Regions from separate parts of the Homo sapiens genome. Here regions 1, 2, 3, 5, 6 and 7 are each linked to region 4. Evidence: fine-mapped expression QTL. A gene starts in region 4. Each other region holds a variant in brackets. All regions are shown on one strand. Distances are from middle to middle.

Region 1 (4,100 bases), 60 kb after region 4:
TTTCAAAAAATGCAAAGAAGAACGGGCACCTTTCCATCTCTGTGTCTTGTTGCAGGTCCTCTTCGATGGGGAGTTTACCATGCAGGGCAGCTACTGAGGGCTGTTGAATTCTAAAGCTAGTAAGACAAAGTCTGGAAAAGGGGTGGATTAGGCTGTAGCAGGGAGGGGGAGCCCTCACATTTCCTTTGATGGTCTTTATTGACAGCCCGGCTCATGGAGTTGAACGGATCAGCCTCAGCTCCCATCCTGTTGAGCAGAGGCATTTTCATTCTTAGAGTTTTGGAGGCTTTTGCAGGTTTCCATGGGTGGCACTAAGACTTTTGCTGGGAGAATTTGGCCCAGAGCAAGTGACTGTGCATGTTTGACAGCTGGAAGAAGGGAATTTATGGATTTATGCTTGGATTTGTTCTTTATTGTTGCTGTTGTAATACCTGCTTCTGTCACTCTGAGTGTTATTTTGAAGATGGGTGATGCAGATGATTTTTTAAGGCAAGGCATAATTAAGTAATTTTTAGAAACCCATTCAACATTTTCTGTGTCGGCGATGACTGCCGTATAGTTACGATGGGTGGTGGGTGTACTCTAGCCAAAAGATGTCATAGCATCTGTAAGAGTAAACAGCCATGGATGAGTGTTTAGTTTGGTCAGTGCTGGAGAGCTTCTTATTTTTAAGAGGCAGAGTCTCGCTATGTTGCCCAGGCTGGCCTTGAACTCCTGGGCTCAAGGCTCCCCAGTAGCTAGGACTACAGTCATGCACCACTGCGCCAGCTCATCTCCAGCAACTATAGTCATGCACCACTGTGCCAGCTCATCTGCTGGAGAACCTTTTATTGAATTGACTTTGCTGAGATTTGAGACTAGCCTAATTTTTTTTCTTCTCCTTCATGTTTCTACCGTCATTGAGTTGGTTATGGTCCTGCTTGGTCATTTCCCTGGATCTGCTACTTACTGCCTATGGCAGAGGTCCCCAATCCCCGGGCCATGGACCAGTGCTGATCCATGGCCTGTTAGGAACCAGGCCGCACAGCAGGTGAGCAGCGGACAAGTGAGTGAGGATTACCGCGGGAGCTCCGCCTCCTGTCAGACCAGTGGCGACATTAGATTCTCATAGGAACGTGAACCCTATTGTGAACTGTACATGCCACGGATCTAGGTTGTGAGCTCCTTATGAGACTCTAATGCCCGATGATCTGAGGTGGAACTGTTTCATCCCAAAACCACTGCCTGGTCCGTGGAAAGATGGTCTTCCATGAAACTGGCCCCTGGTGCCCAAAGGATTGGGGACCGCTGGCCTGTAGGACCATGAGCAAATTACCTTATTATTTCAAGATCCAATTTCTTTATCTACAAATCGCAATAGAAAACATCATCTGCCTCTGGGGTGGTTGTGATGAAAAGATAAGATATCAAATGTAAATCTTGGCCCTTGGAAATACCAAGTGATCAATAAATATTAGTTCCCTTCGTCCTTTTTAGAGATAATTGATGAGACCAATATGACGTTGACTTGCTGGTTATCTTCAGATATTTCAGAGGCTGTCACATATCACACAGGAGGGACACAGTTTTTGGTGTTCTAGGGAGCAAAACCACAGCTAAAAGGTAAAAGTGGAAAGGAGACAGATTTCAGCTCAACATAAGAAAGAACTTTGTAATAATTAGACCTGTGTTACAATACAGTGGAACTCGTGAAGTAGTGAGCAATTTGTCTTGGAAGAATTTAATTAAAATAGGATTTTTTGGGCTGGGCATGGTGGCTCACACCTTTAATCCCAGCACTTTGGGAGGCCGAGGTGGGTGGGTCACCTGAGTTCAAGAGTTTGAGACCAGCCTGGCCAATATGGCAAAATCCCATCTCTAAAAAATACAGAAAAATTAGCTGGC[T/C]GTGGTGGCACACACCCATAATCCCAGCTACTCAGGAGGCTGAGGCAGGAAAATCACTTGAACCCGGGAGGTGGAGGTTGCAGTGAGCCAAGATTGTGCCACTGCACTCCAGCCTGGGTGACAGAGAAAGTCTCCATCTCAGAAAAAAAAAAAAAAAGAATAGGAATTCGCAACAGCATTCTCATTGACATTTGGGGCCAGATAATTCTTTGTTGTCAGGGGTGTGCTGTGCATTGTAGGTTGTTTACCAGCATGCTTGGCCTCACTCATTAGATGCCAGTAGCAACCTCCCCCTACGCTCCTCCCAGTGTGACAGCTAAAAATGTCTCTAGTCATTGCCAAATGTCCTGTGGAGGGCAAAACCATTGCTGGTTGAGAACCACTGAATTATAGGCTAGATGATGGCGAACTGGACTGCATCCTCCCAAGGTCAACTCTATCCTACCCAAAATTGAGTTCTTGCAATAGTAAGCTCCGGGAATTCTGGGGATGGCTTTTTGGTTTCTGATAGTACCTCCCAACCTGGGACGAAAGACTGAACTCATGTGAAATTGTAGGGGTCAATCTGGGCCACAGAGAGCAACTGAGGTCCTGCCTGGAAAGCCTTCTGCAGTTGCTTTAACGTTTATCTCTCGTTGTGGTTTTTGTAGGTCATGTTGGCAGCTTCCTATTGGTCTCTTCTGGCCCCAGCAGTTGAGATGGCCACGTCCTCTGGGGGCTTCGGTGCCTTTGCCTTCTTCCCTGTGGCTGTTGGCTTCACCCTTGGAGCGGCTTTTGTCTACTTGGCTGACCTCCTGATGCCTCACTTGGTGAGTACCACTCTACTTTTAGCTGTCGTATCGGGATACAACCAGCTCTGTGCAATGAATTTATTTCTGATCAAACCTGACATACCTGTTAATGTCTCTGTTAAGTAGCCAGTGGTATTTAAACAGAGAACAAGGCATTAGAGGAACTGATCGGTGATTTCTTTCTTAAAGTAATGTCTTGGTAATTACCCCCTTATTTACATTTTAGTAAGTTCGGATTTTGAATGTCACATTTCATTAAAAATATAGAGTACAGCTGATGTGCTGGGTGGCACTGTATATATATGAGAGGACCTAGAACGATCACTGTGGTGCTGGGTTTTATTGAGAGTATGACATCATCAGGGAGATGATACTCCCGCCCCACCCCCACAATCTGTAGCATTAGGCCTTTGACCATGGATCACATTATGAGGGCTGACAGGAGGGTGAGGCAGGGCTCTGTGCAGCAGGGGTCTGGGCTGGAGCTCACACCTGCCATTTACTGATTGTATATCCCTGAGCTCTAGTTTTCCATCCTTTAATTTGAGGATAACTCCCCCGAAGGACTGTACAGTAAAATTTTAAAAATGTAAAAATGCACTGGAATTGGGGATAAGCCAGAGATTTCAGGCTTTTTTACTGACATATGGCAGGAGAGCTGGATTTGGGAATGAGCATGTATGTGCTTACAGGGAAGCACCGTGCAAACCGCAGCCTGGCATGTGGCTGTGATCACCGAGCCAAGAGAGCTGGGGCCAGGTCATGCGATGGGAACCGCAAGCCATTGGCTAAAGCCCTGTCATCTGCATGCACCACTGTCAGTAGAGGAAAGGGGTCCAAGATCATAACAGCATGAGACAGCCTTACCAGACACTGGGCCCGACAAGTTCTAGAGATGGCAGAAGCACCCCTGAACTGGTGCCAGAGTTCCCTGCTCCCCTAGAAAGGGAAGTGGTGCAGGGAGAACTCTCTGGAGAGAAATGGGTCAAAGTCCATTTCTCCTGCTGGATCACGGTGAGACAGGATTAAGTCAGACTCACTGGAGTCAGTGGTCATGTACCCCGGGAGGTAGGTAGGTTGAAGTTCTCTTCCCTGCCTTCCTGCTTTCTTTTTTCCTTAACTTCCCAAGTGGAGAAAGAGAAGGAATGATGGGTGATTCTGTAACTATAACGATTCCCAGGAACTATGCCTCTAGGTCCTGGGCTAATGTAAAACAGATTCCTTGTGTTACAGAAGAACTGTCCTTTGGATCAGACAGCTGAATGTGATGTTGGACGGCTGTGATACTGTCTTAAAGCAGAGGTCCCCAACCCCCCAGACCAAGGACCGCTACTGGTCAATGGCTTGTTAGGAGCTGGGCCACATAGCAGGAGGTGGGCAGCCAGCTGCCAAGTGAGCTTTATCTTCTGAGCTCCGCCTCCTGTC
Region 2 (4,100 bases), 460 kb after region 4:
TTGAAGACAGAGGAAGGAGCCATGAGTCAAGGAAAATAGGTGGCCTCTAGAAGCTGGAAGAGATAAAAAAACAAATTCTCCCCTGGAGCCTCCAGAAAAGCACTTGGCCCTGCCAAGGACACCTTGATTTTAGCCCAGTGAGACCCACTTCAGACTTCTGACCTCTAGAACTGTAAGATAATACATTTGCTTTGTTTTAAACCACTCTTCATGGTTATTTATTACAACAGCAATAGGAAACTAATATACCAACCTAAAAACTGTATTTCCCAGCCCATTGTAGCTACAGGGCGACACAATTCTGGCCAAGGAGACAAAAGCAGTAGCCTGCTGATAATTTTTCTAAGAAAGTTTTGTTTTTCTGAGGTAGAGGCTGTTCTTTTCTCATTTGCTGCATTCTTCTTCCTGCCTGGAATACAGATGAAAAGCTAGAGATGGGACAGCCACCATAGCACCATGAGGCAAGCATGAGGATGGAGTCTGTACACCAGCTTTGGTAATACAAGACAGACAGTCAGCACTGGGCACATTGGGATATCACGAAACTGTTGCGTTGTGACTGCTCCCACCGGACTTTTGTATTTGAGCACAATAAATGTCTCTTTGCTCATGGATCTGTTTTATGCCACCCTAGGCAATCCCTGAATGAAATACTCTGCTGCCAGGCTCTCCCAAATCTTCCTTTTTCTTGATTTACTCCCTCATTCTGATGGAGCATATCCTTCCATAGTTTTCTGTGGAGGAAAATTTTTTGAGAACTTGCATATTCTAAAATGTTTTTGTCACACTTGATTGATAGTTTGTTTGCTACAGACGTTTAGGTGGAAAATCAGTTTATCTTAGAAATCTGATATTATTGCTCCATTACCTTCTCATCTTGTGTGTTGCTATTGAGTTGTTCCATACTCTTCAGATTCCTTCTCTTTTGTATATGAAATTTCTCTCTCTCTCTCTCTTTCCCTGTCTCTCCTTTCCTCACCTCCTACTTCCCTCCTTTGAAGGTTATTTTATGTCTAATGAGCTGAAGTTTCATGACACAGGGTCTTGGTATGGGTCTCTTTTCAGTCATTGAACTGGGCCCCTGATCATCTATTTCAATATGGAAACTCATGTTCACTTTCTTATTTATTTCACAATTTCCTTTCCTCAATTTTTTTCTGTTCTTCTTTTGGAATTCTTATTTGTTGGATCTTGGAACCCCTGGTTTGATCTTCTTTTTCATCATTCTGTCTTACTGTTTCTCTTAAGGAATAAGAGAAACTTAGTAATTTTTAAAAGCTCTAGTTGCCATAAAATTCCTTCTTGTGGCCTTCTGTTCTTCTTTCCTGAAGGCAATTCTTTCTTCTGTCTATCCAGGGATAATAATGAAAGGAGGTCACCGTTTTTCTTTTTTTTTCTCTTTTGCTCCCTATTTTCTCCAGGTTTCTTTCTCCTTCCCTGCTCCCACCACCCCCACTGCCCCACACTATTTTCTTATTTTAGTCTCTGTCTTTCCTACTGGGAATTTTCTCCGACTGCCTGATGATGCTTGCCTCATTGAATGCTCTGGATGTAGGGGTGGAGGTGGATGGGACCAGAGAGCTGGTAAATCTCGCTGTAGGGCACTTAGAGAGAGACTCCACTTTTCACTGGAGACTCTTAAATATCACTATGTTTAGGGTTTTCTCTTGGGATGATCTATCTTACCACAGAG[A/G]AATCCAGACCGTTCTCATGGGTGGATTGTAAGTTGGTCTCTAACATTTGAAGAGCAAACTAGGTGAAGGGGCATGTAGACATTTCTTTTTTACCCCTGTCTTCTGGTCCTTGTGCTGCCCCTGCCCTATGCAGTCTCCACATCTGGACTCTCCCTGGTTCAGTTTTGTCTCCTGTTGTGGCGGATGAGGAGTTGCTTGGTGCACAGGGCAGGGATGTGCTGGGGATCCGGGAGCTCCGGTAGCTTGGTACAGATTCTCAAGGAAGCCTGCTGTTCCCTGCCCCATTGCACACACTGCTTTGGGAGACAATAGGTGACTCCATCCAATTCCTTGCATCCTGGTGTGTCAAGGTGTGGGTCGGCTACCTTGCATGGCCTCTTCCTCTGTAGTCAGTTGTGCTTCACCTTTTTTTAATCAGCTAAATCAGTTGCTGACACTTTTTTTTTCTTCTTTTTTTTTCAGGCAGTTTTTATGGTTTTGTTTAAACACAAATAAGACATGCACGTGAGCTGTGTATTCCTGTTCTTCGCTGTGCAGCCTGGCCTTGGGGTTGGTGGCTCTGAGAGCAGCTGGGCTACTCTTTCCATGATGGCTTTGCCATTTTTGGAGGAAACATTGTGAGCCATCTCAGCACAGTAAGATTTGTTGCACATCGGCAGCACTTCTAACCCCCTGACATTGTGGACCAGGAACTTCCGGAAGCCACTGGGCGGCATGTGCTTTGTTTTTTTGTTACTCCTATAACTAATGTTGAGCAGCCCTTGAACTTTCTATGAACCCTGTTGTCAGTACCTCTGGGTTTCTGCCATTTACACTTAATTTTGACATATGGATCTGACTGGTGCCAGATGAACTTCTTGGTTCTGTTTTTCACAATCCTGGGCTTCACGAGGGGTCTGAGGGTAGCCACGACGCTGAGTAGGAGATGGCTGCCACCTCCGTAGGCAGCGCCAAGGAAGAGAGAAGAGAGAGCTGCTGACTTTCAAAACCCTCTCATGTCCTCTCATCTCTCATTCTCCTTGTATTTCTGACTTTTTTTTATCTTTTAATTTTGTTTACTATCATTTCAGGGGCTTAGGGAAGGAGTGGAAAGGATCATGTTGTATTAAGCCATTCAAGCGTTGCTATAAAGAAATATCTGAGACTGTAATTTATAAAGAAAAGAGGTTTAATGGGCTCATGGTTCTGCAGGCTATACAGGAAGCGTGGTGCTGGCATTTACTCAGCTTCTGGGGAGGCCTCAGGAAGCTTACAATCATGGCAGAAGGTGAAGGGAAGCAGTCACGTCACATGGCCAGAGCAGAAGCAAGAGAGCACGGGTGGGGGGATGCTGCACACACTTAAACGACCAGAACTCATAAGACCTCACTCACTATCATGAGGACAGTACCAAGGGGGACAGTGCTAGACCATTCATGAGAAACCCACCCCCATGATCCAATCACCTCCCACCAGGCCCCACCCCTGACACTGGGGAATTACAATTTAATGTGAGATTGGAGTGGGGGCACACATGCATACTTCGTCTACCACGTTGAACTGGAAGCCTTCCTGATCTTTAATGGCCTATTATTCCAGTAACACTCCAGTAGCCCAGGCCCAACAAATCCCTGTATTTCACTGGTAGAAACTGAAGCTTTGTAATATTTAAAGTAGCTACTGACACATAACAAATATTTGGTTGATTACTCTGGGCCCACAAATATTAATTACTGTATATTATGTGTCATATGCAGGAGATATGAAAATAAGTAAGGCAAAGTTGCTGCTGTTAGGTAAAGAACAAGGAGTGTGAGTGAATTATTGAGTGTGTTATCTTGTGTATTCCTCAAATAAAGTTTTCAAAGAGGTTAGATAAAGTTTAAAGGCATGAGAAAACTCTTCTGGGTTTCCCTCCTGAAAGTGACAGTGGCCTGGAATTTAAACCCAGGTCTGGGTGACTCCACAGCCAATATGAACCATGCTGTTTTTATTGCACTGACTCTTTCCAGACCTGACAGCTCATGGCTCAGCTCAGAGTCTTCACATTTAGCCTTTGATGTCTCTGCCTTTCTTAGCTTATTTTTGTCCTCATGCTGCCCCTCAGGCTTCCGTGGCTCTGTAAATCATGTCTGATATGATTTGGCTGTGACCCCACCCAAATCTCATCTTGAATTGTAGTTCCCATAATCCCCACGTGTCATGGGAAGGGCCTGGTAGGAAGTAATTGAATCACGGAGGCTGTTTCCGCCATGATGTTCTCATAATAGTGAGTAAGTTCCCATGAGATCTGATGGTTTTATCAGGGGCTTCCCCTTCGCTCACACTCATTCTTCTCTCTCCTGCCTCCATGTGAAGAAGGATGTGTTCGCTTCCCCTTCCGTCATGATTGCAAGTTTCCTGAGGCCTCCCCAGCCCTGCAGAACT
Region 3 (4,100 bases), 32 kb before region 4:
TGGGTTCTGTAGAGAATGTAGAATTCTGGCCGGGCACGGTGGCGCAAGCCTGTAATCTCAGCCCTTTGGGAGGCCAAGGTGGGCAGATCACGAGGTCAGGAGATTGAGACCATCCTGGCTAACACGGTGAAACCTCATCTCTACTAAAAACACACACAAAAAATTAGCCGGGCATGGTGGCGGGCGCCTGTAGTCCCAGCTACTCAGGAGGCTGAGGCAGGAGAATGGCATGAACCCGGGAGGTGGAGCTTGTAGTGAGCCGAGATCACGCCACTACACTCCAGCCTGGGTGACAGAGCAAGACTCCGTCTCAAAAAAAAAAAAAAAAAAAAAAGAAAGAGAATGTAGATTTCCAAGGGCTTGCTTCCATTTAGAATGGGGCAAAGATTCTGTGCTAAGAGCTTTACACGTACCCTTCATACATCACATCAGCACTATGAGTTTGCCCATTTTGTAGATGAAATGGAGGTACTAGTTAATAACAGGCAGAAGTATGCTAGAATCCTGGCCGTTGGACAGCGGGGCTCCTGTGCTGAACCACCGTTCCACCTGCCTTTCTGAGGATATGGCTGGTGCATTAGCACACAGGAGGGCCTCAACCACTGGGGGAAGATACCAGTGAGGTGCTATTTTTTACCTATCAGATTTGGGGGGAAAAAAGAATTCCAAGTCACTGGTAATGGAAGTGAAATTTGGAGAACGCTTTCAGGAGTGTAATTTGGCAATATCTATCAAAATGAAACATGCACACACCCTATGGCCCAGTTTGCATTTCTTGGAATGGGTCCTGTAGAAATACCTTCCTTGGTGCTTAAAGATAGGTGCCTAAGAATAGTCGTTAGAGGCTGGAATCGGTGGCTCATACCAACAATCCCAGCACTCTGGGAGGCCGAGGTGAGAGGATCGCTTGAGCCCAAGAGTTTGAGACCAGCCTGGGCAATGAAAAGAGACCTCATCTCTATTAAAAAAAAAAAAAAAAATTGGCCGGGCACAGTGGCTCACATCTGTAATCCCAGCACTTTGGGAGGCTGAGGTGGGTGAATCACTTGAGGTTAGGAGTTCAAGACCAGCCTGGCCAACATGGTGAAACCCTGTCTCTACTAAAAATACAAAAATTAGTTGGGTGTGGTGGCAGGTGCCTGTAATCCCAGCTACTTGGGAGGCTGAGGCAGGAGGATTGCTTGGGCCTGGGAGGCGGAGGTTGCAGTGAGCCGAGATCACGCCACTGCACTCCAGCCTGGGTGACAGAGCAAGACTCCATCTCAAAAAAAAAAAAAAAAAAAAAGAATCATTGTTAGAACATCAGACAACGCAAAAGATTAAAAACATCTTCAAAGTCCTTCGGGAGGGGACTGGCCAATTTTAACACAGCCCAGCTCCAAATGGAGCACCACAGACACGACAAAAAAGGAAGAGGGAGAGTGGTGTGAAGCCCCTTGGGAAAGTATCTATGATATGCCACTCAAGTGAAAAAGACAAGTTCCAGAGTAAGATCTATGTAATAAAAGATGATAGTATAATTTAGTAATTATATAATTAATGTAATTGTAGCTCACATAATTTTATCTATACTTATAAATTTACATTTCTTTAAGTACATATACAGAAATACATGTAACTAAATAATTAGAAGTTATATGTGTATATGTGTGCATACATTTGGGTGTATTTATATAGATATAAACGT[A/G]TGTATATGTATGTGTATGTATGTGTGTATACATCTATATCTATATATGTTTGCATATGACAGTAAAACATTTTAGAAGGAACTATCCAAGCTGTTTGCAGTGGTTACCTCTGTTGGTGAAGATAGAAGGAGGAGGATTTTACTTCATTTCAATTTTAATTTAATTTAATTTAATTTTACTTTTTGAGACAAGATCTTGCTCTGTTGCCTAACCTGGAGTGCAGTGGTGTGATCTCTGCTCACTGCAGCCTCCACCTCCTGGGCTCAAGTGATCCTCCTGCCTCAGTCTCCCAAGTAGCTGGGACTACAGGCACATGCCATCATGCTTGGCTAGTTTTTTAAACATTTTTTTTTTGTAGAGGCAGGGGTCTCACTATATTGCCCAGGCTGGTCTTGAACTCCTGAACTCAAGCAATCCCCCTGCATTGGTCTCCCAAAGTGCTGGGATTATAGGCATAAGCCATCACACCAAGCCTACTTTTTACCTTATATCCCTCATAAAAACAGGAAGGAAGGAAGAAGGGAGGGAGGAAGGGAAGGACGGAAGGAAGGCAGGAAGGGAGAGAGGGAATGGTGGGTTATGGGTGACTTTTCTTTCTCCTTTGTTCATTTTGGTATTTTCCAAACTGGAGAAGGAGGATGAGGCACAAAGTAGGAAGAATGAGCCCTGTGCGTAGACAGAGCCATTGTGCCCACAGGAAGCAGGGAGGCCCAAGGCTTCACGTTCTCGTCAGGGCACTCAAGCCTCAGCACACTCTGTGAGAGCGTGTTGAGAGTGGAGAGCTGAGAGAGGAGACCTAGTGGGTGGTGAGGGCCTGGGCTTGGTCAAAGGAGGAACGGTTGGAAAAACAGATTTTTAGGTGCAAGGAGGGAAGAGTTGCGGAGAGGACCTGAATGCTGCTTTTACATAAGAGGGAAAGGATTGATGAGACCTCAGAGGCAAAGCTAAAGCTACTGGGTAGCAATTCTCTGGAAAAAGACACCACACTTTTAATCGATGGGCAGTAGAGTCCCTGTTACAGGTCAGGTTTGGAAAGCGGTGGTGCTTCCACTGGTGGGTGATGTTGTGGTTCAGCCTTGGACTCAGAGAAGCTGACGCTCTGCTGTGCCTCTTCCTTGACATTTAAGGGATTTGTGGCCTCCTGCCACCAAGTGTTCCCAGGCCTGTTATTCGGGCTTTGTGCACTTTACACTTTTGTGCACAAACATTGCTTTGAGCATGGTAAAACATTAGCTATTATATGTAGTTTTTTAAAGGTCTTGAGATGGGTCAGGCATGGTGGCTCATGCCTGTATTCCCAGCACTTTAGGAGGCTGAGGCCAGTGGATTGCTTGAGCCCAGGAGTTTCACCACCCTGGGCAACATGATGAAACCCCATCTCTACAAAAAATACAAAAATTAGCTGGGTGTGGTGGTGCATGCCTGTAGTCCCAGCTACTAGGGAGGCTGAAGTGGGAGGATTGACTGAGCCCATGAGGTGGAGGCTGCAGTGAGCTGTGAGCACACCACTGCAGTCCAGCCTGGGCAGCAGAGTGAGACCCTGTCTCCAAAAAATAAAATAAAATAAAATAAAATAAGATAAGATAAAATAAAATAAATAGGTCTTGAGACCTCTCCCCTGTCCTTTCCATTCCTATCCCCAAGCTAGCCATTGGAGACTCTCTGGTCTAAGAGAGAGGGACATCTTTGAACCAATAAATTCACTGGCGAAGTTGGCAAATTTATTTATTGAGTGCCTACTCTGGATTTATTTCTTTAGGTGCTGGATATACCAGGCTGAACGATATCACCATTGTCTTCCTACTCTGGAGCTGACATGCTCATAGGGAAGACAGACCAAACAAACACCACAACCCCTTTCCCTGCCCCCCTACCATTGAAAACAAATAAATGAAATACCTACAAGTTATTTGTTTTCACACGCTGATCCCAAGATCCACATCCTTATCCATGACTCCTTCATTCGGTGAATGTTTAATGATCACCTCTGTTTAAAAGCAACCCCGTTGTGCAGGAGCCACCATCTTACTGATCCTCAAGTTCCTGAAGTTCATCCTGGCAGCAGGACTTTCTTATCATCTGATGCCCGAAGAGGGAGAAGGGACGGTCTCTCCTTCCAGGCTGGCGCTGGCTTCAGGAGGCCAGGCTGGCGGGCTGAGCCATTGTCGCTCTGTGAAACACATAGCTCCCTCCATAAACTTGCGTGATGTCAACCACCAGACTCATGTCTTGATTCCCTCTGGATTGGCTCTATCTTGCTGCAAAGCAATTATTTTAGTGTCTAGTCAATTCCTGTAAGATCATGCAGGAAGCTCAGCGCTCAGGCCCAAAGAAGGCATACAAGAAGAGAAAGAAATCTGACTGCCAGGAAGAATTGGGGCTGCTTATCATGTGGATGTCTTATCACTTTCT
Region 4 (4,100 bases):
AGACCACCCTCCAGTGGCCAGGCTGTCTTCTCCTCCCCATGGAGTGCTTGGTATATGGTGCGACCGTCAGTGTGAACAACCTAGTTCCACTGGAAGAAAGAGGCCTGTTATTGGACCCTTTGGGCTATGGCCATCGAGACCACGGGTAGCTTTTCTGCTCAGGTCACGCTCTGATATGTTGTCAAATAAAACACAGGACACTCAGCTGGGTTTCAGTTTCAGATCAACAACAAATATGCCTGTAACATAAGTATGTCCCACACATTGCCCGGGGCATATTTATAGTAATAAATGACGTTATTTTTCTGAAATTCAAATTTAATCAGGCTTTTTTTTTTTTTTTTGAGATGGAGTTTTGCTCTGTTGCCCAGGCTGGAGTGCAGTGGCGTGATCTTGGCTCACTGCAAGCTCGGCCTCTCGGGTTCACGCCATTCTCCTGCCTCAGACTCCCGAGTAGCTGGGACTACAGGCGCCTGCCACCACGCCCAGCTAATTTTTTGTATTTTTAGTAGAGACGGGGTTTCACCGTATTAGCCAGGATGGTCTCGATCTCCAGACGTTGTGATCTGCCCGCCTCGGCCTCCCAAAGTGCTGGGATTATAGGCGTGAGCCACAGCGCCCAGCCCAGGCATCTTGTTTCTATCTATTTATTTATTTTGTTTTGTTTTTGGCTAAATCTAGTCAATCCTATCCTCTGGTCTTTTCACAGAAATCCTGCAGATCAAAGCCTTTGACCTAGGGCAGTGCTTTTCAAAGGGTGGTCCCAGGACAGCAGCATCAGCAACTCCTAGCTCAAAACAAGATCTCAGGCCAGGCGCGGTGGCTCATGCCTATAATCCAGCACTTTGGGAGGCCCACACGAGTGGATCATTTGAGGTCAGGGGTTCGAGGCCAGCCTGGGCAACGTGGTGAAACCCCGTCCCTACTAAAAAAAAAAAAAAAAAAAAAAAAAAACAAAAATTAGCGGGGCTTGGCAGCATGCACCTGTGATCCCAGCTACTCGGGAGGCTGAAGCAGGAGAATCGCTTGAACATAGGAGGCAGAGGCTGCAATCACCCGAGATTGGGCCACGGCACTCCAGCCTGGGCGAAAGAGCGAGACTCCATCTCAAAAAAACAAAAGCAAAAACAAAAAAATCCCAAAATGTCAGCCCCACCCAGAATGACGGAACCAGAGCCTCTGGGGGTGCTGGCATTTTGTGTTTGACCCCCTCCAGTGATTCTTTTGAGGGTCATTGACTGGAGAATGATGCCGATGCCATCACATTACCCGCCCCCAGCCTCTCCCGCAACACACACACAGCACATCCTGCTCTGCTGCGCACCCAGTGGCATGGACCTGGCTGCCAAAGGTGTAGAAGCATAAGTAACATCAGGGGTGTTACAAAGGGCTCTTTCCTTGGGTGTTTGTAGCTTCCCTTAGGGCTGCAGTCACTCGCAGACTGCTGGGCTCTTGGCCTCAGGGCTCTGTTCTGCCCGCCCAGATCTGTTCCTGAGCCTGCAGACGGCTGTGAACCAGAGAATCTATTCTTCAGGCGGGAGTTGCCAGTTGCGGCCAAGGGGGCGGGGCCCGGAGGCGGGAGGGCCACGTGTGCGGGAGGGAAGCAGGAAGTGACTGCGGGAGTGGAGCCGGCGAGAGAGTGGCAGCGGGGGCTGATGGAAGTGCAGTGGGGGCTGGAGAGGGCACCCTAGTGAGTTGGCTTTTCTCTCCTTCGGTGCCTTTGGTTGGGCTCGAGGCCCGGGGTCGGAGGCCATCAGGACAAGAGTGTGGGACTTGGAAGGGCAGCCACCTGGAGCTTGGAAGGGGGTACGCCTGGAGAGAGGAGGGGTTTGGAGGAGAAATTGGAGGCTTTGGCAGGTGTCGGGGCGGGGTGGGAGGGTGAGGGGCGGTGGGAAGGAAGTCCCCGGACCCCGGCTATGTCCCTCTCCAGGGTGATCTGGAAGGCAATGACATGCCTTCCTTTTACAGTCCTAACCCAAATCCTCTTCGTTCGTCCCTTCCTAGGCGGTGTGTGGGGGTACCCGGGATTCCTGGGAGCAGAGGCAGCTACAAATCCAGCTGCTCCCAGGCCCCTCCCACTTGCTCTGGCTGTTAGCTGGACCTCTGGAACTTGACTGGGAATCTGGTTAACTTGCAGCAGGTCTGGGTGGGGCGTGACAGTGTGCATTTCTAACTAATTCCCAGGTTGGGTGGTCCGCGGACCACGCTTTGAGTAGCGAGGCATTAGAGAACTTTTCCACAGTCCTCTCCGCCCAGACCTGAATCCTTCTGCTGGATTCCCCCTCGTGGAGTTAGGGCATGTGTGTGCAGCTCCACTAAGGCCCAGCAGCCCTAGTGCTGTTTCCACTTCTGCAACTTCACCAGCCTCTTGAACTGACTCTTGGAAGCGGAACAACAGGTTTAAAAGGGGGAGAAAGGAAATAAAGAAAACAAACCTGTATCAATCAGCCGGGAATGCCCATGTGCTGCTGTGGCAGGTGTGTACAAGTCTACAGGCTGTTGGCATGTTAAAAGTTGGAACGGTCAGAGAATGATTCTCCCTGCTGCTAACGAATCAGGGTTGATGGAATTAATATCCCCATCGTGAGGAATTCTGAGCCCCATTGTGTAAGCTGTGATGGAGATGCTGTGTCCTAAAGTTGTTACTGGTCTGCCGGTTAGAGAAAACTTCTTGTTCTCTTGGGACTCTGCCAGAAACTTTTTCTTCTCTTGAGACTCTGCAGAAAACTTTCTGTTCTTTTGGGACTCTTCTTTGCTCTTGCCAATCCCACATGGGGCAGGAGAACTCATTTTCTAAGCTCTTGGTATTGTAGAAGTTTTACCAGTTTTATTTATTTATTTATTTTTATTTTTTTTTGAGACAGAGCCTTGCTCTGTCACCCGGACTGGAGTGCAGTGGCGCGATCTCGGCTCACTGCAACCTCCGCCTCCCGGGTTCAAGCGATTACTCCTGCCTCAGCCTCCCGAGTAGCTGGGACTACAGGCACTGGGACTACAGGCACACACCACGACGCCCAAGTAATTTTTGTGTTTTTAGTAGAGATGGGGTTTCACCGTGTTGGCCAGGCTGGTCTCGAACTCCTGACCTCAGGTGATCTGCCCGTCTTGGCCTCCCAAGGTGCTGGGATTACAGGCATGAGCCACTGCGCCTGGCCAAGTTTTACCAGTTTTAATCTTTTGCTTTCCACAGTTTAATGTGCATAAGAATCCCCCATGGAATTCCACAAAATGCAGACCCTGATTCAGAAAGTCTGGGGTGAGACCTGAGTTTCTGCATTCCTAACTAGCTCCCAAGCCGGACCAGTGCTGCTGGTTCTCTGACCACCCTTGTAGCGAGGATTTAAAACAGCAAATAGAGAAGAAACTTCTCCGAGGGGCACTGGGCTTGCATTGCCCGTGATCAATGCTGCTCCTGTTGGGATGGAAAGGATGGTGGCCTCGGTCTTCCCTCTGTGTCCCTTTTTCTTACTCAGGAGGGTGCTCAGATATACATGGGGACAGGCTTAGACGGGTGTTTCCCTATCCCACTAACCACCAGGAACACCCACGAGCTCCCTCTGTTCTGTTCACCAGCCCACAAGATCCACATTGACTTTGGCCTGTTGGCAAATGTAAATTGTTTGCTCTCTTCTGTAGCTGTCAAGAGGCACATTCAAATACAGGAAAGAAAGGTGTTTTTGTTATGCCCTGTCTTGGATGATAAGTACTAAGAGGATGATCCCTTTGTGCTGTTCTTTGTAAATGCTGTTTGAAATTTTGTCCACAGCAACTCGGAATAGATGATTGGTGTAATGGTCCAGATGGCTTGGTTTAAAAACAAAGACCAACCCCTCTTTTTAGGGTGGCTTAGCAAGATGACGGATGTAAAGGGTAGTAGTTTTTTGAAAATGATTTTTTTTTTCTTTAATTGGCGTGGTCACAGTTTTCACAGTTGGTGCAGTTCGTTTAGAGTGCGGGAACTAGAGTCTGATTCCATAGATGCTATTTATCTCAGAGTTTCTGGCACAGGGGCTGAGCCAGGGCTCACCTGGGCTCACCTGGACCTATACCCTTCCTAGGTTTGAGCCTGGGTGTGTTGCTGAGCCGCTTGGCATAAGGGC
Region 5 (4,100 bases), 450 kb after region 4:
CCAGATCAGGTTGGAGAACCTTCCCTCCCTGTCTGTCCCTGTCCCAGTCCCAGCTGGGACCCCAGCCTTGGGATATGCTCTTTCTTCATTTGCCTTTCCTTTCCTTATTCCCTCCCCCTCTCTGCCCCTTCCCAAGATCATCCCCACTGCCTCCTCAACTGTGCTCTCTGAAACTAAAAGAAAAGAAGCTAAGGGCATGTGGGTCAAGAAATGAGGTGACACCAGGCAGTGGCATACACACCTGCCCCCCGTCCCTTGATGCAGTAGACTATCGTTTTTGTATATTCTCTCTCATCCTGTCTCTCGATTCTCGGGCTGGAATGAAGGGAGAGGTGAGCTCTAAAATGTCAGTGAAGGTGATACATGCATGTCTTCACTGGCTAGCTATAGGCCAGGTGTCAGAAGGTGGGAGTAAGGGTTTGCTTTGTTCCATTTTGTTGTTGTTTTGTTTTGTTTTGTTTTTCTTTTTTTTTTTTTTTTTAATGGCAGAGTCTCGCTCTGTCACCCAGGCTGGAGTGCAGTGGTGTGATCTCGGCTCACTGCAACCTCCGCCCCCCAGGTTCAAGTGATTCTCATGCCTCAGCCTCCCAAGTAGCTGGGACTACAGGCAACCACCACTACGCCCAGCTAATTTTTGTATTTATAGTAGAGACGGGGTTTCGCCATGTTAGCCAGGCTGGTCTCAAACTCCTGACCTCAGGTGATCTGCCTGCCTCGGCCTCTCAAAGTGCTGGGATTACAGGCTTGAGCCACTGCTCCCAGCCTATTTTGGTTTTTATAGAAGAATAACTCTGAGGCTAGTTTAAAAGGCCAGATTAAGTAATATCTTTAAGAAATAATCACCCCTCTTCATTACTCACACATGGACCACAGAACGATCATAGGTGACCTTGGGCAAGTAACTTCTCTTTGCCTCAGTTTCCCCACCAGTAAAATGAGGATAATTATGATACTGACCTCATGAGGTTGTTGTTTGGGGTTCCATGGTTCATTAGTTTGCCTGGCACATAGTAAGCCCCAGTAAATGTTACCATTATTAATGGTAGTGTGCTTTCTCTTGGAATTGGACATTGCAGAGGATGCCTTCAGCCTAGCCGTGGCCTCAGGGATCATTAAGGTCTTACTTTTCTTCCTGTCCTTCTCTTCCAGTGGTAATGGGAAACTGGCATCCTGGGCCTCCATCCTGGGATTTGTAGTGATGATGTCACTGGACGTTGGCCTGGGCTAGGGCTGAGACGCTTCGGACCCCGGGAAAGGCCATACGAAGAAACAGCAGTGGTTGGCTTCTATGGGACAACAAGCTTCTTTCTTCACATTAAAACTTTTTTCCTTCCTCTCTTCTTCATCTCATTATCCTGATTGACTCTGATTATAATAGAACCATTTTTACTTTGCTTTGAGGGAGATTTTTGATTTAATGGGGAATTTTAAGGTGTCATGGAAATACAGATTCTTTGTTTTGGCCACTGAATGGACTCTCTCTTCAGTGGGATTATCAAGGAACTTCAGATCAGGGAAATCTCCACTTCGGGACCTTCTATCTGCCTCCCAACTCCTCAAGGTCACCTATAGAAGCGAGCTACCAAAAGACGTCTCCTAAGCATTTTGGTGGCCTAGTGACTCAGGGCAGAGTGGCCAGCACACCTCTCATCCGCCCCTCCTGCTCCATCACTGCTGAGCCTCTCCCCATCTAGAATGTTGGAACTGGAGCATCATAAAGATAGCAAGCTACCTTCCAAGGCCGAGCCAGCCCAGAGAGGAGCATGTCTTCCTTTACCTCCCCCTAAGGAGATACTACATGGGAGGGGGACACAGAAAAAGGGAAGGAAATTGGCTAGTCTGGCTTTTTTTTTTTTTTTTTTTAAAGGCAAAGATTGACATTATTGAAGGAAAGGGGATGAGGACAACTGTGAACTCACAGTGAGCCCTGTGGAAAGAAGAGACAGACAGAGTGTGGGTTTGTTCGGAGGCCTCTGCTGTCAATGGATTCCAGGAGCAAGGCCATTTGTCGCGCTTTCCAAATTTCTTAGGCATTTATTTTGATAAGTTTATAGCCATCATGTTTCTAAGAGACTTGGAGACACCAGCAAACTGCTAGAACTCAAACTCTTCAATTACTCAAAGAAGGAGCCATTTCAGTTAACTCAAGTGAATGAAAGA[G/C]TTTTGGAATCTGCTGTGGGTCCTTCCCTGTTGACCATTTGGTAACTTATAATCTGACAAAAACTCTTGAGCTGCAACAGGCCTTGCCAGAGGGCTCAGGATGGGAAAGGAAGAAGGGGATAGGAAAAGAAGAGGTAATTTTACATTTCCCCTTTAAAGTAAATTTTAGCCAACTCATCATTCTGAAATGTCCCTATAAAGAATGAGTCGAACTAGACCAGAAGCCAGCCTACTCCTTCTTACATAGCTTCTCCAACAGGGGTAGCAATGACCTGTCCACTTCAAACACAGATAAGGCCTGCCATCCTCATTGGTTAAAGGCACACGTGAGACTTTCAGTGGGCTCTGCTGAGAAGGAAGGCAGCCCAGGAGTCAGGTATGCAGGCATTGCATTGTCAGTGTCTGCTCTCAGAGTTTACACATTCAATTGCTTCCAAGGGTGAATCTCCTGCTCTGTGAATGCTATCAGACCCCAAAGGCCAACCTTGGGCTGGGTCTATGTACGTTCTTCCGAAGCACTGATGATCAAAATTGAAGACACATTCAGAGGTTTGATTGGTTGAGATTAACTGGTGTGGTGGTTGGTGTATGTATGTTTTATTTTTATGTCTTTGTATGTAGTTCTACATAATGCAAATTGTGCTTTCTGATGGACAAGACCTCATAACTGTGATTAATATCAATAAAAAGGGGATGTTGTGGATGACCTGTGTTACGTTCAGTACTTCTCAAAGCTGCTTCTTTGCAAGGATGATCATAAAAGAGCTAACTAAAGTTGGAACTAACACCTCCCTGATCCAACACTAGGAGAGGCAAAGGAAAGAGCTCAGATGGGAAGGGCTAGTCAGATTCTTGGTTGCAACAACAGCATCCAACAGCAGCTTACTTAAACAGAAAAGGAAATGAGTGGAAGCCTGTTAGGGAATTCACAGGCTCTTTCGGAGAATCGGGCTTGAAAATGGGTTGGATCCAAGAAAGCCAGAGGTCTGGGGCCATGACCCAATCACACCTGGAGAACAGCTTGGTTTAGATGCCATGGTCCCCAGAGCTGGTCCCTAGATCCTGGACACCACTAATGAAACTGCTGTACCTTGATGCCACCACCACTGCCGCCACAAGAACAAACTCTACACTGAGCTGGATTCTTTGTGTCCTGGCTCCACATTCGAAGTTCTAGATCAGAACATCCAGCTGCCAGAGCTTAGATCCTGTGCCCATGAACTAGCTGATCTTGCCCCTTCCCAAGACTCGCAAAATAGTGGATTTTCCAAATTTGGGAATGAGTTCATATGGTGCAGAGCCAAAATAGAAAAAAAAAAAAGGGTCTATTAAGTTCATTACAGCCTTACTCTTTTGCTGTTCAATATCAACATATACTCTAATTCCTCTAGTTTTACTTAAAGAAAAAACTCTTGCTTAAAATATGTAGCTATTCCTCATACAATCAAAACTTCTTTCATTCCCTTTCCAACGGGGTTACCCCAATGTCTTTCAACTCCTGTACTCAAGGTCTGTGAGTAATGGATACCCCACCTCCGTGGGATAACAAGCCCATCTCATTATTCTGTATCTTTGAGCTGAAGTGTAAAGTTAACCATAACCGTTCATCCCATATACAATAAAACGAATAACGGGAGAGGAAAGAGAGGCAATGAGTTAAAATAGGATACACACAACACAGGAAGTACAAGTAGAAGCTACAGCACCCATTTCCTGCCCTAGAGAAGAGACCCTGGATGATGTTTAGGTTTCCCGCTTCCAGTTTCCATTCCAAGTCCATGCTGTCTTCAGCCAGTACCTTAGATGACTGGGGTGTGACCTACTAGCCGTGACCCTATTCCTCTTTCCTAAGGGCACAGAGACCAAGGAGGCCCTGCCCATATGCATGATGGTAACAGTCTTCCCTTAACTCCCACCGCTGGAGGAGGAGGAGGAGGCGG
Region 6 (4,100 bases), 380 kb after region 4:
GGAAGGGGGAAAGAAGGGAAAACTCCAGACAGGTGGTACTGAGGTGATCTGGTGGCCTTGCGGTCATGACTCACTTCTCCAGCCTCACCTCCTAGACAGCCGATGTGCAGGGTCACTCCGAGGGAGAGCTACAGAGCAAGAGTGACCTGTCCTGTAAGTTCCAGAATAAGGAGCGATGCTGAAGTCATGCACCCCAGAAAGGTATGGAAGTCTTAATCCCCAGGACCTGTGACTGTAACCTTATTTGGCGGTAGGATCTTTGCAGATGTAATTAGTTAAGATCAGCTCGTACTGGATTAGGGTGGGCCTAAGTCCAACATGACTGGGTACCCTTATAAAACAAGGAGGGATGACACATGCGGAGAGGACAGTGCCCCGTGGCCACACAGGGACACGTGGAGGGAAGACGGCCTTGTGGTAGTGGAGGCAGAGACTAGAGTCATGTGTCTAGAAGCTGGGGAATGCCACCAAGTGCCAGGGCCACCAGAAGCTGGAAGAGCCGAGGGAGGATCCTCCCCTAGAGCCTTCAGGGGGAGCATAGCCCTGCGGACAACTTGATCTTGGACTTCTGGCCTCCAGGGCTGTGAGAACAAATCCCTGTGGTACTTCATCACAGCAGCTGTTAAGAAACCAGGGCATCGGGTCTCCCTACCTCCATCGGCGTCTTCTCTGTCCCTGAGGTCCTCTCTTAGCTTTCTCCACTTCCTCTCACAGTTGGACGCAAAGCCCCAAGGCCACTTTTTTTTCCTCTTTTTAAATTTTTTAAAATTTTTATTTTTATATATATGTATATACATATATATACACATATAAGTATATACATATATACATATATACATACACATATAAGTATATACATATATACATATACTTATATGTGTATATATGTATATATGTGTATATATATTTTATATGTGTATATGTGTGTGTGTGTGTGTGTGTGTGTGTGTGTGTATATATATATATTTTTTTTTTTTTGAGACAGGGTCTCCCTCTGTTTCCCAGGGTGGAGTGCAGTGGCATCGTCTTGGCTCACTGTAACCTCCACCCCCTGAGTTCAAGCAATTCTCATGCCTCAGCCTCCTGAGTAGCTGGGATTACAGGCACCTGCCACCACGCCCAGCTAATTTTTGTATTTTTTGTAGAGATGGGGTTTTACCATGTTGGCCAGGTTGGTCTCAAACTCCTGTCCTCAAGTGATCCGCCCACCTCGATTTCCCAAAGTACTGGGATTACAGGCGTGAGCCACCACACCGGGCTCTGAGGCCACTTTTTCATCCATATTCTTCTCTGTGCCTCTGCATGTGTGTTCCCCATCCCTTTGGTAACTTCTATTTTTTATTTCAGGAGTGGGTTAAAGTTTCCGATTTTTTTTTTCCTTATACTCTCTCAGTTCAGTCTGGACCAACTTGGAGAAGAGCGGCGGCTTTCCCTCCCTTTTTCTGTGGCCGCCTTCAGACGCTGGCCCATGGGAGAGTCAGGGCTGTCCCCCGTATTGGAGCTATTAAACTGTCGTAAGAAAGGGGCCTTTGTCACGGGAAACACGTTACTCAGCTCAGTCATAGAGACAGACTGTGCCAGAAAACAAACAACAAAAAAAAAAAGGTTCAACCACAGCATTCTTTGGGACTTCAGTCATCCGCCTCCCGCTTGTTCTTAAAAGACGAATTTCCTTTCTTCCGTGTAATTCCATCAGATAGGTCGTCAGGTTTTCATTCTGTCCAGAATGGAGTGCTGGGGGCCCTACCCTGCCATCTGCCAGGGGCCTCTGCCCAACACCCCGCTTGTATGACCTCATGCCTGCAGGTTGGGAATGCAGGGGGGCTCCCTTGGGCCTTTTTGGGGTGGGTCAGGGAGGGTGCGAGGAGAACGAGGGCGGGAGTTAGGTATTTTTTCACACTTACCATGACCTGTCTGTGCACTTAAAAATTGATCAAGATGGTACATTTTGGCCGGGCACGGTGGCTCACGTCTGTAATCCCAACACTTTGGGAGGCTGAAGCGGGCGGATCACTTGAAGTCAAGAGTTCGAGTCCAGCCTGGCCAACATGGTGAAACCACGTCTCTACTCAAAATACAAAAATTACAGGTGGCACATGCCTGTAATCCCAGCTACTCAGGAGGCTGAGGCACGAGAATCGCTTGAACCCGGGTGGCGGAGGCTGCAGGGAGCCAAGATCACAGCACTGTACTCCAGCCTGGGTGACAGAGCGAGACTCCACCAAAAATCAAAAATAAAAAAAGATGGTACATGGTATGTTATGTATACATTAATCATTAGGCACTAACTCCCCATTCCTTATCTCCCCCCAGCCCCTGGCAACTGCCATTTTCTTTCTGTCTCTATGAATGTGACTCCTCTAGGGACCTCATAGAAGTGGCATCACACAGTATTTGTCCCTTTGTGTCCGTCCTATTTCACTTAGCATAATGTCCTCAGGGGTCATCATGTTGTAACGTGTCATAATTTTCTTCCTTTGAAGGCTGAACAATATTAGGTTGCACGGATGCATCATTTTGTTTGTTCATTC[G/A]TCTGTCCATGAACACTTGGGCTGTTTCACCATTTAGCTCTTGTGAATAGTGCTGCTTGTGAACATGAATGTAAGAATATCTCTTCAAGACCCCACTTGAGGTTCTTTGGGGTATATGGCCAGAAGAGGCATTGCTAAATCATTCGGTAATTTGATTTTTAATTTTTTGAAGAACTTAGTCATGGTGCATCTTATCTGCCTTGTAACATCGTGCCCTTGGGCAGAGGGGTACTTCCTGGAGGAGAGAGCCTCTCGCGGGCTCCCGGGGCCCCTTTCGTGGCTGGGTGCATGAGATGTATGCAGCCAACCCTTACCTCCTCCTGAGTGCAGACCCTGGGATGCTGCACTGGTCGCACACCCGTGGAGTTGGCCCTGAGTGAGAATAGACATCACGAGAGGAAAAATTGTGAGCGTGAAGGGGCTACATGGATGCAAGATGCGAGGTGAAGTGGTTTTGAATATGTACGTGTAAAGATCCTTGATTCCATGCTTTTCCACCAACTGCTGTTTAAACAAATGAACCTCTCACTATTAGCTTCACAAGTACGGCCACGTTCCTTCTTCAGCCAGGCAGGTGAAACACTCCATGAACCCAGATCTGAAACAGGGCAGTCCACAGGAGGTGAACAGCTGCAGACCATGTCATCCGCCTTCCTGACAGGTTTGGGGACAGCCCCATAATCACAAAAAGGTGGTGTTCTCTGGTCTTTACCAAGGAGGCTCAACACAGACACGGTGTGCAAACTCAAGCTCTTTCTCCTTGTTAAGGATCAGGTTCCTCATCTGTAAATGGGATTTCCTGAAGGGGTAAATGAAAGTGGAAGGAAAGCCCTTGGGTGGTACTGGTTGCGTAGCAGGCACTCAGCAGGAGGTGGATGTTGACACTGTCAGCAGCAGGGTTATGAACTTGGCTGCTGCGCTTCTTACCTGCTTCCTTCCTTTTTTGGCGACCCATTATTGAACAGTATTAGCCTGGTGCAAAAGTAATTGCAGTTTTTGCCATTTCATTGGCAAAAACCGCAATTATTATTATTTTTATTAATTTTTTTTTTGAGAGAGAGAGAAAGAGCCTTACTCTGTTACCCAGGCTGGAGTGCAGTGGCGTGATCTCAGCTCACTGCAACCTCCGCCTCCCAGGTTCAAGCGATCCTCCCGCCTCAGCCTCCCAAGTAGCTGGGAGTACAGGTGCGCACCACTACACCCAGCTAAGTTTTGTATTTTTAGTAGAGACGAGGTTTCACCATGTTGGCCAGGCTGGTCTCGAACTCCTGACTTCAGGTCATCCACCCGCCTCGGCCTCCCAAAGTGCTGGGATTACAGGCTTTAGCCACCGCGCCCGGCCTGAGCCACTGCACCCAGCCAAAACCCACAATTTTGCGGCAAACCTAATATCTATGCACGGCCTTTGTGGTGGACTGTAGATCTAAATTTGAGGTCCCTGACGTTATTATTTACCAGCTGGGTGAGCTTTGAAATGTCATTTCACTTCTCTGGGCCTCAGTTTGCTTTTTTAAAATCTGTATAATGGGCCTATGAATGGCTCCAGGGTCAAAGTGTTGGGGGATTCAG
Region 7 (4,100 bases), 400 kb after region 4:
GGAGCCCCTAGGATCATGAGGGTCGGGGCGGGGGTGGGGGGTTCTGCTCTGAGGGGGACAGAATGGAGCAGAGGTCATGGTCCCTGCCAGGGGATATGACTCAGTGTTTCTCAGAGGGAGGACTTAGCTGCCACTGGTGATCTGATTTTCAGAGCAACCCAGGGATTTGCACTGTGGCATAGCGAGCTCATTGTTTGGAACACTTGGATTTTGGGCTTCGTTGAGATGGTGTGGTGGTGATGGGCACTGATGGAGATTGTGGGAGATTGGGTGAGACAGAGCCTCTCCCCAGAGCCTCCACCCTCTGTCCCTGATCTTACTGGGAGCAAATTGAAGATAGACACCTTCATCTGGGGATAATCAGGAAAGTTTTTGCAATAAAATGAAATATGTGCCAGGGGCTTGGTGGCTCACACCTGTAATCCCAGCACTTTGGGAGGCCAAGGTGGGCAGATCACTTGAGTTCAGGAGTTCGAGACCAGCCTGGGCAACATGGCGAAACCCCATCTCTACAAAAAATACAAAAATTAGCCAGAAGTGGTGGCGTGCACTTGTAGTCCCAACTACTCAGGAGGCTGACATGGGGGGATCACCTGATCTCTCGAGTTCCAGGTTGCAGCGAGCTGTGATCAGACCACTGCACTCCAGCCTGGGGGACGAGTGAGATCCTGTCTCAAAAAAAGAAAAAGAATAAGAAATATGTAAAAGTATTTTGCAAAGCCGTGAAAATGAAACGTCTGGTGTTATGGCTATTAGCAGAAAGAAACAAGAACATTGTGGGCAGAATGTAGTAGAACACATTGGGCCCAGACACATAATCAGCAGTCTCGGGCCAGGGTCCTAAGTTCTGTCTATAAAACGCAGCTGCTGAAGCGTATCTCATGAGGCGCTTGTAACCGCAAGCTGATCATACAGGCCAAGCCTCTAGCACAGAGCAGGACACATAGCAGGGCTCAAAAATGGTAGGCAGTAACAATGTCACAATTGTATTTTTTTATAATATGATTTATAATACACTTTATAACATAATTATTAAAAGCAGGTTCATAAAGGTGCTAAAAACAGGTGAGTAGGTCTGTGTGGATACATTGGAAGTTCCCTGGTGGGGTGTGGCAGTAGATTGGAAGAAAATTTATATGGAAATCAGAGAGATAGGGGGCCCTGAATGCTTCTCTGAGGAGCGTGGGTCTCATATGTCAGACAGCAGACAACACCTGGGCGCTTTTGAGCGAGATGGGAATGGTGAGGAGAGTCCATTAAGCCCAGCGGAACAGGAACAGACTCCGGGATCAGATCTCGGTTTAAACATGGAAGAGTCACTTACCCTCCCTGAGCCTGGCTTCTTTGATCTTAGAATGGGGATTAGTATTAGCCACGTCCCCTCTTGCAGCTGTCCTGGTAGGTACCTTGTAAATGGCGACTGCTATTATTTGTGCTTAGAAGGATCATCCCTCCTGTGGGGTGGAGGACAGGGGAAGGAGCAAGTAGACTCAGAGGCCGGGGTAAGGAGCCAGGTGGGGACTCAGGCTTTGCCATGCTTTCCGATCTCCACCTTGGACCGCAACTGAAATGCCAACTCCTGCCTTCCCCTCCCCCTGCCCCATGACTCCCAATCCCACCTGTTTCCTTCCGAGATCTTCACAAGCTGTAATTATATACACTTTTTTCCTCGCTTAATTATTGTCTGTCTCTCCTTGCAGACTCTT[T/C]GCCCCATAGCGGGGTCTGTTTCACCACGCCCAGCATCCAGGTGTGGTGGTGCCTGCCCCTGCATTAGTCTCCTGTGGCTGCCTAACAAATTACCACAAACTGGGTGGCTTAGAACAGCAGAAGTTGATTCTCTCACACTTCCCAAGGACAGAAGTTGGAAATCAAGGTGCCAGCAGATAGCTGTGCTCTCTGCAGGCTCTGGAAGGAGGACCCTTCCTTGCTGCTTTCCAGCTCCTGGTGGCTGCAGGCATCCTTTGGCTGGTGGCCGCATCATTCCGGTCTCTGTCTCTGCCTTCACTTCACGCAGCCTTCCTCCTCCTCTCCTCTGTGGGTCTCTCCTCTGGTTGTCTTTTCTAAGGACACTCGTCATTGAATTCAGGGCCCACCTAGATAATCTAGAATGATCTTATCTCTACCTCCTGAAGTTAATTACATCCACAAAGACCCTTTTTTTTGTAAATAAATCATATTCCTAGGTTCTAGGACATGGCTATCTTTTGGGGACTACCATGCAACCCTCTGCACCCTCTTCTGTGTGAGATTTCTCCCAAAGGAAAGAAGTTTTCAGTCTATGGCCATAATGCCCAGTTAGTACTTGGATGGGAGAAATATTCAGCAATAACAGCTTGCCAGGAAGCACCCAGGGGGTGCAGCGCCCTGTTTTAGGCACAGAATCCAGCTGGCTGCAGCCCAGGCAGCTCCTTCCCTCATGGAGCTTATTCCCTGGATGAGCAGATGCATGTGGACATGTCAGGCTGTGGATACTACGTGCCGGGAAGAAAAACTCAAGCCAGGAATGGCTCAAAACTCCTGAGAACATGATAGGGAGGAGTGGGGGTAGAGAGGGTTCTGTTTGAGGAGGAGACACTGAGGCAGAGACCCAATCAAGGGAGGGACAGAGGCCTCTGGGAGATGAGGTCAGAGTAACTCAAAACAGACTTCCCGTTTCTACCCTTCTTGGCATTTCTGACCTTTGTGTACCCCATTCCCTTGATTTCCAAAGAGAACCAAGGAACTGCATACCAGCAGAAAGAAAGGGGCAGCTGCTTCTTAAAGGGAGGAGATCACAAAAGAAGGGTCAAGGGAAGGTCTATGCTCAACTAAGGGCAGCCATGCCCACAGCACCTGCCTGGCCTCGGTCCAGAAAGATGGAGTGAGAGACAGAGACTCTCCCGGGGAGGAAATATCGTAATGGATGTCCATGGAGGCCACCAGCATCTCCAGTTCACAGAGCCAGGACAGGAGCATCTGCAAGGCAAAGTAGCCTGGGATGACAGTCAGCAGACCCCAGCCCCAGGTCTTCTCTCTGGTGGCCCAGGGTTTGTCAAAGGGAAAATGCTATTTTGGATTGTGGTAGACGGACCCTGAGGGGACCACCCCACCCTGCCCACAAGGTTCCTCCACCTTCGTATTCAAGTTTTGTCCGTCATCTTCTGGCCACCATTCCTTAGCTTGCCGTGGAACCACTGGAGGTGACCCAAAAGGAATTTCCAAACCAGCCCTGCTACAAAACAAGTCCCGCAGTGGTTGGGGCAATGGAGGGGAGCCCCACAGAGCCGCCCTGCAGACAGCTGCACAGTGGCGAGCAGCTGAGATCCGGGTATCGTGATGTCTGAGACCAAGGAGACAGTTCTTCCAAAGTCTCTGAAACAGGAGCCAGAGAAGGAAGCCACGATGGGTACCAGGGCTCGGGGAGGTATCCTAAGGAGCCAATTCTAGCTCTCCTTCCTGAAGTTTAATAAAGAAGAAAATCACATGAGCTCAGAATGAAGCACCATCTTTGGTTTTCATTTACATGTTCCACAGCCCGGTGGCAACCTCACAGTGGATTTTGTGAGACCCCCTTCTCAGGAGTCCCCATGCTCAGCAGAGCCAGCATGAGAGAGGGCTCGGGCCACCCTGCCTCACCCACCGCTGGCTCCACTTCCCCAAGACTGTGTCTGCCAGCCATGCTGCAAGCTGGGAAGCCCAGCACAACCTCCTCTATCTTCCTCCTCTTCTTCCTCTGGGACTCCCTCAGTCCAGCCCCAGACTGAGCAAGGAGAGGACTCTGTCCCCTCGGGAGAGTCAGGGCAGGGAGGTGGGTGCTTTTTCTATAAAGAGCTGGGGGCTGGGCTCGGTGGCTCACCCCTGTGGTCCCGGCACTTTGGGAGGCCGAGGCGGGTGGATCACGAGGTCAGAAATTCGAGACCAGCCTGGCCAACATAGTGAAACCCCGTCTCTACTAAAAACACAAAAAATTAGCCAGGCGTGGTGGTGGGCGCCTGTAATTCCAGCTGCTTGGGAGGCTGAGGCAGGAGAATCGCTTGAATCTGGGAGGCAGAGGTTGGAGTGAGCCGAGATTGCGCCATTGTACTCCAGATTGAGGAGTGGCATGGCCATTTGTCCTCCAG

Which allele goes with the higher level. Positions count from the first base shown, and alleles are read on the strand shown. Sizes are in standard deviations (SD) of each study's normalised expression. Not every link is listed here.
In carriers of allele T in region 1, the expression in cerebellum of the gene that starts at base 1,613 in region 4 tends to be lower than with C alone (moderate effect, 0.41 SD a copy in GTEx).
For the expression in sun-exposed skin of the gene that starts at base 1,613 in region 4, allele G in region 2 goes with a lower level than allele A (small effect, 0.20 SD a copy in GTEx).
For the expression in B cells of the gene that starts at base 1,613 in region 4, A is the high allele of the variant in region 6 and G is the other (small effect, 0.37 SD a copy in Fairfax 2012).

What was found. PIP is the estimated chance that this variant, and not a neighbour inherited with it, causes the effect. A credible set is the group of variants that fine-mapping cannot tell apart.
Region 1: its variant is the best candidate, but not a certain one, in a credible set for the expression of SLC39A11 in cerebellum (GTEx, PIP 0.77).
Region 2: its variant is the best candidate, but not a certain one, in a credible set for the expression of SLC39A11 in sun-exposed skin (GTEx, PIP 0.89).
Region 3: its variant is the best candidate, but not a certain one, in a credible set for the expression of SLC39A11 in neutrophils (BLUEPRINT, PIP 0.73).
Region 5: its variant is the best candidate, but not a certain one, in a credible set for the expression of SLC39A11 in whole blood (INTERVAL, PIP 0.85).
Region 6: its variant is the best candidate, but not a certain one, in a credible set for the expression of SLC39A11 in B cells (Fairfax 2012, PIP 0.77).
Region 7: its variant is the best candidate, but not a certain one, in a credible set for the expression of SLC39A11 in nasal epithelium (TOPMed, PIP 0.75).

What each region holds. Positions count from the first base shown.
Region 1 is chr17:73,030,149-73,034,248 of GRCh38, reverse strand. It overlaps SLC39A11 (solute carrier family 39 member 11), which reads left to right. Exons shown (of 10, transcript NM_139177.4): 4 at 2,535-2,693. Among named protein-coding and RNA genes, the nearest start is that of SLC39A11, 60 kb to the left of the region's middle. The variant T/C (reference allele first, on the strand shown) is at 1,885.
Region 2 is chr17:72,625,735-72,629,834 of GRCh38, reverse strand. All of the region lies in intron 2 of LINC00511 (long intergenic non-protein coding RNA 511), which reads left to right. It overlaps LOC107985005 (a long non-coding RNA gene), which reads right to left and starts at 203. Exons shown (of 3, transcript XR_001752991.2): 1 at 1-203. It also overlaps the pseudogene RPL32P33. The variant A/G (reference allele first, on the strand shown) is at 1,694.
Region 3 is chr17:73,122,143-73,126,242 of GRCh38, reverse strand. No RefSeq gene overlaps it. Among named protein-coding and RNA genes, the nearest start is that of SLC39A11, 32 kb to the right of the region's middle. The variant A/G (reference allele first, on the strand shown) is at 1,688.
Region 4 is chr17:73,090,201-73,094,300 of GRCh38, reverse strand. SLC39A11 (solute carrier family 39 member 11) reads left to right here and starts at 1,613. Exons shown (of 10, transcript NM_139177.4): 1 at 1,613-1,690. RefSeq lists a silencer at 2,453-2,684 and an enhancer at 3,655-4,100.
Region 5 is chr17:72,644,712-72,648,811 of GRCh38, reverse strand. SLC39A11 (solute carrier family 39 member 11) reads left to right here. Exons shown (of 10, transcript NM_139177.4): 9 at 1-9; 10 at 1,150-2,863. The coding sequence ends at 1,228. Among named protein-coding and RNA genes, the nearest start is that of LINC00511, 6.3 kb to the right of the region's middle. The variant G/C (reference allele first, on the strand shown) is at 2,161.
Region 6 is chr17:72,713,847-72,717,946 of GRCh38, reverse strand. All of the region lies in intron 7 of SLC39A11 (solute carrier family 39 member 11), which reads left to right. Among named protein-coding and RNA genes, the nearest start is that of LINC00511, 75 kb to the right of the region's middle. The variant G/A (reference allele first, on the strand shown) is at 2,532.
Region 7 is chr17:72,693,677-72,697,776 of GRCh38, reverse strand. The region is part of intron 7 of SLC39A11 (solute carrier family 39 member 11); the gene reads left to right. Among named protein-coding and RNA genes, the nearest start is that of LINC00511, 55 kb to the right of the region's middle. The variant T/C (reference allele first, on the strand shown) is at 1,707.